Regions from separate parts of the Homo sapiens genome. Here region 1 is linked to region 2. A link means that fine-mapping ties the variant in region 2 to the plasma level of a protein whose gene starts in the linked region. Region 2 holds a variant in brackets. A gene starts in the other region. All regions are shown on their forward strands.

Region 1 (4,390 bases), not on the chromosome of region 2:
TGGATAGAAGTGGAGGTCATTATAAGTGAATTAAGCCAGGCACAGAAAGACAAATTTTACATATTCTCACTTGTTTGTGGAAGCTAAAAATATTAAGACAATTGAACTTATGGAGATAGAGATTAGAATGATGATTACTAGAGGCTGGGAAGAGTAGTAGCGGGGGAAGTGGGGATGGTTAATGGGTACAAAAATATACTTAGATAGAATTAATAAGATCTAGTGTTTGTTAGAACAAGAGGATGACTATAGTCAACAATAGTTTATTGCACATTTCAAAATAACTAAAAGAGTATAATTGGATTGTTTGTAATACAAAGAATAAATGCTTGAAGTCATTTACCCTGATGTGATTATTACTCATTGTATGCTCGCATCAAATATCTCATGTACCCCATAAATATATATATCTACTATGTGTCCACAAAAAATTTTTAAAAATAATAAGAATTGGCTTAAAAAATGCTGTTTCCTGGGCCCCACCCTAGACTGATGGTCAGATACCTAATGTTGACAAAAAAAGTCAAACTCTGTAAAACATTTGAAGAGATTTATTCTAAGCCAAATATGAATGACCTATGGCCTGTGACACAGCCCTCAGGAGATCCTGAGAACATGTGCCAGGCCACAACTTGGTTTTATACATTTTAGGGAGACATAAGGCATCAATCAATACATGTAAGGTGTACATTGGCTAGGTCCAGAAAGGTGGGACAATTGGAAACAGGGAAGCGGGGCAGCTTCCAAGTCATAGGCAGATTCAAAGATTTTCTGATTGACAATTTGTTGAAAGAGTTATTATCAATAGAAAGGAATGTTTGGAGACATCCAATAGAAATTCAATAGACAATCATTAGAAAGGAATGTCTGGGTCGTGGAGACCAAGGTTTTATTATGCAGATGAAGCCTCCAAGTAGCAGGCTTCAGAGAGAATAGGTTGTAAATGTTTCTTAATACACTTAAAAAGAGCATGTTCTGGCTGGGTGCAGTGGCTCATGCCTGTAATCCCAGCACTTTGGGAGGCCAAGGTGGTTGGATCACCTGCTATCAGGAGTTCAAGACCAGCCTGACCAACATGGCGAAACCTCGTCTCTACTAAAAATACAAATATTAGCCGGGCATGGTGGTGGGTGCCTGTAATCCCAGCTACTCGGGAGGCTGAGGCAAGAGAATCACTTGAACCCAGGAGGCAGAGGTTGCAGTGAGACGCAATCATGCCACTGCATTCCAGCCTGGGCAACAGAGTAAGACTCTGTCTCAAAAAAAAACAAAAACAAAAACAAAAAAAGAGTGTGTTCTATTAGTAATTCCAAAAGGAAAAAGGATGTAATGAGGCATATCCAGCTTCCCCTTCACATCAGTTTTCAGGTTAACTTTGGAATGCCCTTGGCCAAAAGCAGGGGTCCAGTCACATGGTTGGTGAGTATGGCCTTAGAATTTAATTTTTTGGTTTACATTAGGAATGCTTCCACATTCTCTCAAACAAATTTTAGTCACAGTTTTGAATAACGTACTCTGGCTCAGCCATTGCAGGTCTCAAGCCGTTAGGTTTCATTTTCCTCCTCCCAACGATTTTAAATTAGTTTCACTTTCCAGTTTCCTCTTCCTTCCCCTAAAAGCAATTACTCAAAAACGGAGAAAACATCAGCTGATGCGTGCCCTACTCTCCCACCCCTTTATATAGTTCCTTCAGTATTTACTTGAGGCAGACAGGAAGACTTCTGAAGAACAAATCAGCCTGGTCACCAGCTTTTCGGAACAGCAGAGACACAGAGGGCAGTCATGAGGTCAGTGAAATAAGAATGCATAATCATGCTTGTTTTTGAGTGCAAATTGTAAGTTGAGTTTCTTACTGTGCAGGCACATTCCTGAATTGTCCTGATGTTTATAGATTCAATATGTCTTTATCAGTCTGAGCATTTGTAAGATGTTTGAGGGGTTTTTCCCTGTGGCTTTTTTTGGTGTACACACAGGCTTCTTAAGTTTCTGGAATGGTTCCCTACGGAACTACATGGGGGGAGGCAGGGTGGGGAATGCATCAGCTCATGTTTCCTCCCTGTGTGCAGCTATTTCCTGCAATGAGAGGAAGGCTTGGCAGGAGCGGTGTATTTCACTCAGCCACAAACTTGGCTGATTCAAGGGTAGACCTAAGGGAATTACTCTTTTGGGTTTTTCTGTTATTGTCATTTTGTTTGAAAAGATTAAGTCACAGGCTTTTTTTCTTGTAATTTTAAAAGGAGGAATTTATTTTCAACAGATATTGTGAAAGATACAATCAGTACTGCAAACCCACTCATGAAGAAGGCAATTTTGCCCTGAAACGTTGCATTACTTTAAGGTGGGAAGTGGAAGAAACAATTCTTACAAATGGGCATTTTTGTCATTTCTTATATAAAAACAAACCCAAAGCTTAGCATTTATTTTTATTGATGTAGTGAATGCTGGTCAGCAGCAAAAAAAGAATTTCTCCTCAAAAGTGTAATGACCTAATCTATTATCTAAAACTAGTCTAATCTCTAATGGTGGGAAGCAGATCAGTGGTTGCCTGGAGATGGTGGGGATTGAGTAGGAAGGCTCCCAAAAGAATCTTTTTAGAATCATAGGAATAGTCTATAGGGAGGTAGTGATGGTGGCTACATATGCATAAACATTTACCAAAACTCATCAGACTATACACTGAAAATGGGTGCATCTTATTGTATATAAAGCATAATCTCAGTAAACTTGATTTTTAAATTTATATATTGACCTCCTGGAGTTCTTCAGGGGATAGCATGTTAGGGAGAACTAAGAGAAAAGGATGCCTTTCCCACCAAGCATCTCTAGGAAAGGAGTGAGGAGGTGATTGCCAGGGAGGGAAGACCCCATCGACCATTCAGGGGGGCAGAAAAGGAAAACTGGATTCCCTACCTTACTCTGCCCCAAGGACTTGAAGATGCTCTGCAATGTCATGTTTGGGGATGAGATGGGTAAGAGGAATTCACTGCCAAATACCTCAGTATATAGAATACCCTTTTATATAGAATAAGTTCCTGGTCAAGAGTGATGTTAATTGTGTCTGTGTGAGTGGGATTGACCAGAGAGCAAGGCGTCTTAGTAGCCAGCTTGCAGGAAAGGTTTTACAGGGTCCTGTCTTTAGGTGTGTCTATAGCCACTGACCTGAGGAGGTCTGAGGGGGGCTCTCTGAACTATGCTGGACTCAGGTTCACATCAAGGTGCTCCTATTTCCAGAGGCTATAGGAACAGGAAGAGATTGGGCTGCTCCTCCCCAGTTGTGCTAAAAATTTCCAAATGGGAAAATCACCTGGAGAACTCACTGGCACGTGCCAGCTGATGGGCATCCTCCTCTGCCCCATCCACTGAGGAACTCTGTTGCTCCCTTTACACACTCACAAATTCACTTAAAATTATAACACAAATATATTAGTACCAGCAATCATGGTGGTAACATTTCTTTGTGATCTGTAGTTAGTGGTTTCATGCAAGTCCGTGTGAAGAGACCACCAAACAGGCTTTGTGTGAGCAACAAGGCTGTTTATTTCACCTGGGTGCAGGTGGGCTGAGTCCGAAAAGAAAGTCAGGGAAGGGAGATAGGGGTGGGGCCATTTTATAAGATTTGGGTAGGTAAAGGAAAATTACTGTCAAAGGGGGGTTGTTCTCTGGTGGGCAGGTGTGGGGGTCACAAGGTGCTCAGTAGGGGAGCTTTTGAGCCAGGATGAGCCAGGAGAAGGAATTTCACAAGATAATGTCATCGGTTAAGGCAGGAACAGGCCATTTTCACTTCTTTTGTGGTGGAATGTCATCAGTTAAGGCAGGAACTGGCCATCTGGATGTGTACATGCAGGTCACAGGATATGATGGCTTAGCTTGGGCTCAGAGGCCTGACAAGTGGGCACTGTGTTAAACACGTTTTACGCATGACCTCATATCACCCTTCCAACAGCCCTAGGAAGTAAGAGCTATTATTTCTATTATTAGCCTCATTTTCTAGATGACCAAAATGGGGCTTAGAAGGGCAAATTACTTGCCCAAGACATCAGATAGAGAGCAGGTGTCAGAGCAGAGTCATTAATGGAGGCACCAAACTCTACTGCTGATCATCTGACTCTATGCCCAATGGCCAAAAGGTGAAAGATCTTAATGCTTTCAACTATGCTCACTTTAGAGAGGGGGCCAGGGATGGGCTTCCTATCTGGAGAGTAAGGGCCAGCCTTTGATGGTTACCCATGCCTTAGAGTGGCCAAAGCCACAAGAACTGAACCCAGATCTTGGAGAAGGGTGAAAGTGGTTCTCCCCAGGGCATAATTTTCTATCATTTGGATGAAGGGAAAAGGAAATTCATCCTAGGGCATTTTAAGGATAAGGGAATGAGGCTCAGTGATATGACTCA
Region 2 (4,358 bases):
CACATCCCCTCTACCTCTACCTCTACCTCTCCCGCCGCCAGGGCACCACCTGTCTGTCTTCTGTGTGAGTGGGGAGTAAGGGGAGCCTAAAATGCTGGACAAGGACCCCCTTTCCCCAGGACTTTAAGAAGCAGGTGCTCTCTGCCCACTGCCTAGGATGTGGGGACAGCAGCCCATAGCGTGCCAAGACTCCCGACCCAGGGCACAGGATCTATTTAGGAATTTTGCTGGAGACCTGGGAAAAGGGGACAGTGGGAGGAAACTTGGGGGGCCAAACTGTATACGCTGGACTGTGATGAAGCCAGCACTCTCTTTGACCCTGTCTGAATGTCTTTGTCTCCCTGCATCTGTTTCTTTTTTCTCTGTCTCTGTCTGTATCTTTATTTCTGTCTGTTTTTATGTGCCTTTTTCTTTCCCCTTTCCTCTTTCTTTCTCCCTCTCTGTATCCCCCTCTGCCTTTTCTGCCTTTTTCTTTGATCGTCTCTGCTGCCATGTGGTTTACCTCTGTATTCTCTGCCTCTCTCCAGGTCTTTACTCTGACTTTTTGTCTTTCTGTCTTTGTCTCTGGTCCCTCCCGCCCTCAACCCCCCGCCTCAGGTTCCTTTGGGTGTTTGTCTCTTTCTATTTTGGTCTTTTTCTGTGTGTATACATCCATGTCACCCTCTCTCTCTGCCACTCTCCTCCCAGGCTGGCCACTACTCCTGGCCTTCTCCAGCTGTGAACAGTTCATCAGAGCAGGAGCCCCAGAGGCAGCTTCCGGAGGTGCTAAGTGGCACCTGGGAACAACCTCGAGTTGACGGGCTGCCTGTGGTCACCGTCATTGTCGCTGTCTTTGTTCTGCTGGCAGTCTGCATCATAGTGGCAGTCCATTTTGGGCCAAGGCTGCACCAGGGCCATGCCACTCTCCCTACAGAGCCACCGACCCCAAAGCCAGATGGTGGCATCTACCTCATCCACTGGCGGGTGCTGGGCCCCCAAGACAGTCCTGAAGAAGCACCACCGGGCCCTCTTGTCCCTGGCTCCTGCCCTGCGCCAGATGGACCCAGGCCCAGCATCGATGAAGTCACTTGTCTGTAGGAGGGAGACTTTGGAGAGTTAGCCTGACCTAGCTCAGAACAAGAAACCGGGCAGAGAACTAGGGCAAAAGCAAATTGGAGCCTGGGCATCAGAGCGTCGGAAGGGCACACTGGACTCAGCTGGAGCTGCTCTCTCAGAACATTTATAGAGAGAGCCCTGTGGTGGGCAAGAGAAATCAAAACTTGAGGGCCCTGCCCAGAAACATGCTGCGGGGGGCCTTCCCAGGGCCCAAGGCCACCTCACAAAGTCCCTCCCTCCTCTTCAGGGACCACCAGACCCCTGAATCTCCTTTTCTGAGTCTCTGCCCCTTCATTGCACGCTTAATCTCCTTCCTTTGTAATGTGAATCCAACTCCCCACAAGCAGGAATGTCAGAGGCCCCGTGGAGAGGCCCTCATCCTACAAAGGCCAGCCAGGGAGAGCCCAGGCGGAGAAGCTGGGATCTGCCTTCCCTTAGGCTCACTGGTCTTAGGGAAGTGACGAACGTCTGTTCTCCTTGGGGCAGTCAGTCAGGGGCAGTCCTTCGGCTGTTAGGGCCCAGACCTTGTTGACAAGCTCCGAAGTCCTTGTAAGCCCAAGCACAATTTATAGTTCAAAGATTGGCTTTCAAAGGCCCCCACTGACTCTGTCTTGCCTCTCCAGAAGGGATGGGGGAATTTGGGAGCCTCTCATTGCCTCCCACTTTCTGTGTGCCTGGGCCTGTTGGAACAAGCCTAGAATGTACCACAGGACATTTCCCAGATCTTTCCGGCTGATGAGAAAACAGGAAAGGAAAAGGAGCTCCATGGAACTTGTTTTGGGAAGGAAGGAGTGGGGTGGGGACCACTCCCAGCTGTGGGAGTGCCTGGGTCTAATCAGCAGGGGGGTCAGGATGATGCATCCAGAAGCCAGGAAGACAAAACTGGGCCTCCTGGTGGCTCAGTGCCTGCTGGTGGCACTGCCTTCCCCAGCACCTCTGAATCTTACTCATCTGCAGTCAAGAACACGCAGACAGACATTTATGGCAGGACCTCTGGTGCTCTACCCTGGGGAACTCCTGGGGACAAGAAGTCCCCTGGGGGCATTGGCAAGACCCCACCACAGTCAGGGAGGCTGGGAAATAACAGAATATAAAAAGGAACAGAGGTGGGGATTGCAGTGTGTGCAGAGGGCAGGCTTGCCTCCTTTGGGATTGGGGAGAGGCAGCTAAAGTGTTAATAGCTGCCCCTTGTTGTGGGTCAGCTAAGTGCTGGACACCAGGCTTCTCTGTGGACCTACAGATATGATACCATTCACTCCTCACAACAACCTCCAGGGGAGGGGCCACTGCTATCCCCGTTTTACACTTGGGGAAACTGAGGGTTATCAAGATACCTAAGTAGACACAGGTCCTAAGTGGTGGAGTCAGGATTTGAAGCTGGGGCCATCAGACTCCACAGCCTAAGCCCCATGACAGTTACTGGATGGATTGGAAAGGCCTTTGATTCTGGGCTGGTTTCTAGTATACAAGCCACTGGTGTGATGATGGAGGATCTTCAGGCCTTGAGGACAGGGTGGGATACTTAGGGAGAGTGGGGACTGTTCCCCCTTGACTCCCTTGGCTCTGCCGTTCTTAGGGGCAGCCAGTTCCTTCTAACCCATGTGTGTCTGTGTGGAGCATTTCTCCACAGTGATGCTGTACTCAGAAATGTATATTGAGCCTTTGTGACCAAAAAAAA[A/C]CAAAACAAAACAAAACAAAAAAAACCAAAACAGGCCAGGCACAGTGCACGGTGTCTCATGCCTGTGATCCTAGCACTTTGGGAGGCCAAGGTGGGAGGATCACCCAAGGTCAGGAGTTCAAGACTAGCCTGGCGAAACCCCGTCTCTACTAAAAATACAAAATTAGCCGGGCATGGTGGTGCATGTCTGTAATCTCAGCTACTCAAGAGACTGAGGCAGGAGAATCGCCTGAACCCGGGAGGCGGAGGTTGCAGTGAGCTGAGATCGTGCCGTTGTACTCCAGACTGAGTGACAACAGCGAAACTCCAACTCAAAAAAAAAAAAAAAAAAGGTGGGAGGGAGGGAAGGAGCCCAGCTTGGTGAGACAAATGGAACTAACAGAGATGGGCTGCCTTCCCTCCCAGATGGGGACAGCTGTGCCACCACAGTGTTGAATCAGTGGCTCAGTTGTAACCGTGATGGTGGAAGGTATGGCACGGCAGCTGGCTGTGCTGTCCAAGGCCCTCCAGGGACTGTCCCATCTCATCACACAAACTCTTTCCCCCTTGTCCGTTTGCAGGCTCTCTCATCTGGCACCTATAGTGACACCTGCTCCTTTGAGTGGCCCCTTGCCCAGGACACAGCTGTGTTCCTTCATGGCATCATTTGTGTGCTGGCTCAGGCCAGCCTATGGTCCCTGCTCCCCAAGCCTCTCACTGAAGAGAAAGGCACTGAAAGGACAGGTGCCCTCAGCCCAACTGGTAGGCTCTGTCCAGATGGTAAATGACACGCAGCACCCTGCTGCCCTGTACCAAGATGAGGAGGGGTGCAGGGAGGCATGCATGTGCAGGCAGGTTTGGACATTAGGGACAGTAATTCCCATCTGTTATATCGGTCAGAGTCCAGCAGGAAAAAGACGACACACTCACATTGGGTAATCTGAGATGTGCTTTAAAAAAGGACCGTTGAGAAAGGGGTGGAGTATAAGGAAACCGCAAGTGAGAGGGAGTACTCTAGTGGGGTGGGGGTGCCGATACACAGCTAGGCTTAAGGGGCCAGGGAAGGAAGTGGTGCCAGAATCCTAGAGATAGTCATGATTACGCAAGAGTTGCCCGGCAGGAGAGTCCATAGCAACCTTGATGCTGCAGGGTGGGAGCCGGGGGATTCAATACCCCAAACTCAGCCTCCTCCTCCTCTCCATTCTTCTGCTGGGGCTCCCCAATAATGGAACATGACCAGGAGCCAGAGGGCGAAGGAGCCTGTTGATACCATTGAGAGAGTTCGGCGTCCCCGGGCAAAGGAAGGGGAGAAGGGTGGGGAGTGGGTCTGGAAGGCCCCATGAAAGACACCTGGCACACCCCCTAAGTACACTAGCATCCAAAGTTTATGAAAAACTTCCACACACTCAGTCCTCACAACAACCGTGAGGGAGGTAAGGCAGTGATTATGATCCCATTTCACAGGTTGAAGACACCGAGGCTCAGAGAGGGGAAATGACTGGCCCAAGGGGACAAGACGCATCTTAAGATGTCAAGTCCTGGACCCTTCCCTGCAAGGCCCCCTGTGGAAGGAAATAGCTCTGCTGGACATTCAGCCACTGAAGAG

Which allele goes with the higher level. Positions count from the first base shown, and alleles are read on the strand shown. Strength reflects both the effect of a copy and how common the allele is.
For the plasma level of the protein whose gene starts at base 1,706 in region 1, allele A in region 2 goes with a lower level than allele C (moderate association).

The links. A credible set is the group of variants that fine-mapping cannot tell apart. PIP is the posterior inclusion probability: the model's chance that the variant is causal. Protein levels are from antibody-based Olink assays in UK Biobank. Linkage for the fine-mapping came from a reference panel and not from the study's own genotypes, which makes the PIPs less certain.
Region 1: it holds the start of IFIT3, and the variant in region 2 is the best candidate, but not a certain one, in a credible set for the plasma level of the IFIT3 protein (UK Biobank, PIP 0.76).

The regions. Positions count from the first base shown.
Region 1 is chr10:89,326,292-89,330,681 of GRCh38, forward strand. It overlaps IFIT3 (interferon induced protein with tetratricopeptide repeats 3), which reads left to right and starts at 1,706. Exons shown (of 2, transcript NM_001549.6): 1 at 1,706-1,787. The coding sequence starts at 1,783. It also overlaps a transcript of LIPA not described here. RefSeq lists enhancers at 1,474-1,713, 3,935-3,994 and a silencer at 2,034-2,083.
Region 2 is chr5:139,471,845-139,476,202 of GRCh38, forward strand. SMIM33 (small integral membrane protein 33) reads left to right here. Exons shown (of 2, transcript NM_001365197.1): 2 at 688-1,856. The coding sequence ends at 1,077. STING1 (stimulator of interferon response cGAMP interactor 1) reads right to left here. Exons shown (of 8, transcript NM_198282.4): 8 at 3,689-4,358. Among named protein-coding and RNA genes, the nearest start is that of SMIM33, 3.0 kb to the left of the region's middle. RefSeq lists enhancers at 712-1,233, 2,798-3,319. The variant A/C (reference allele first, on the strand shown) is at 2,774.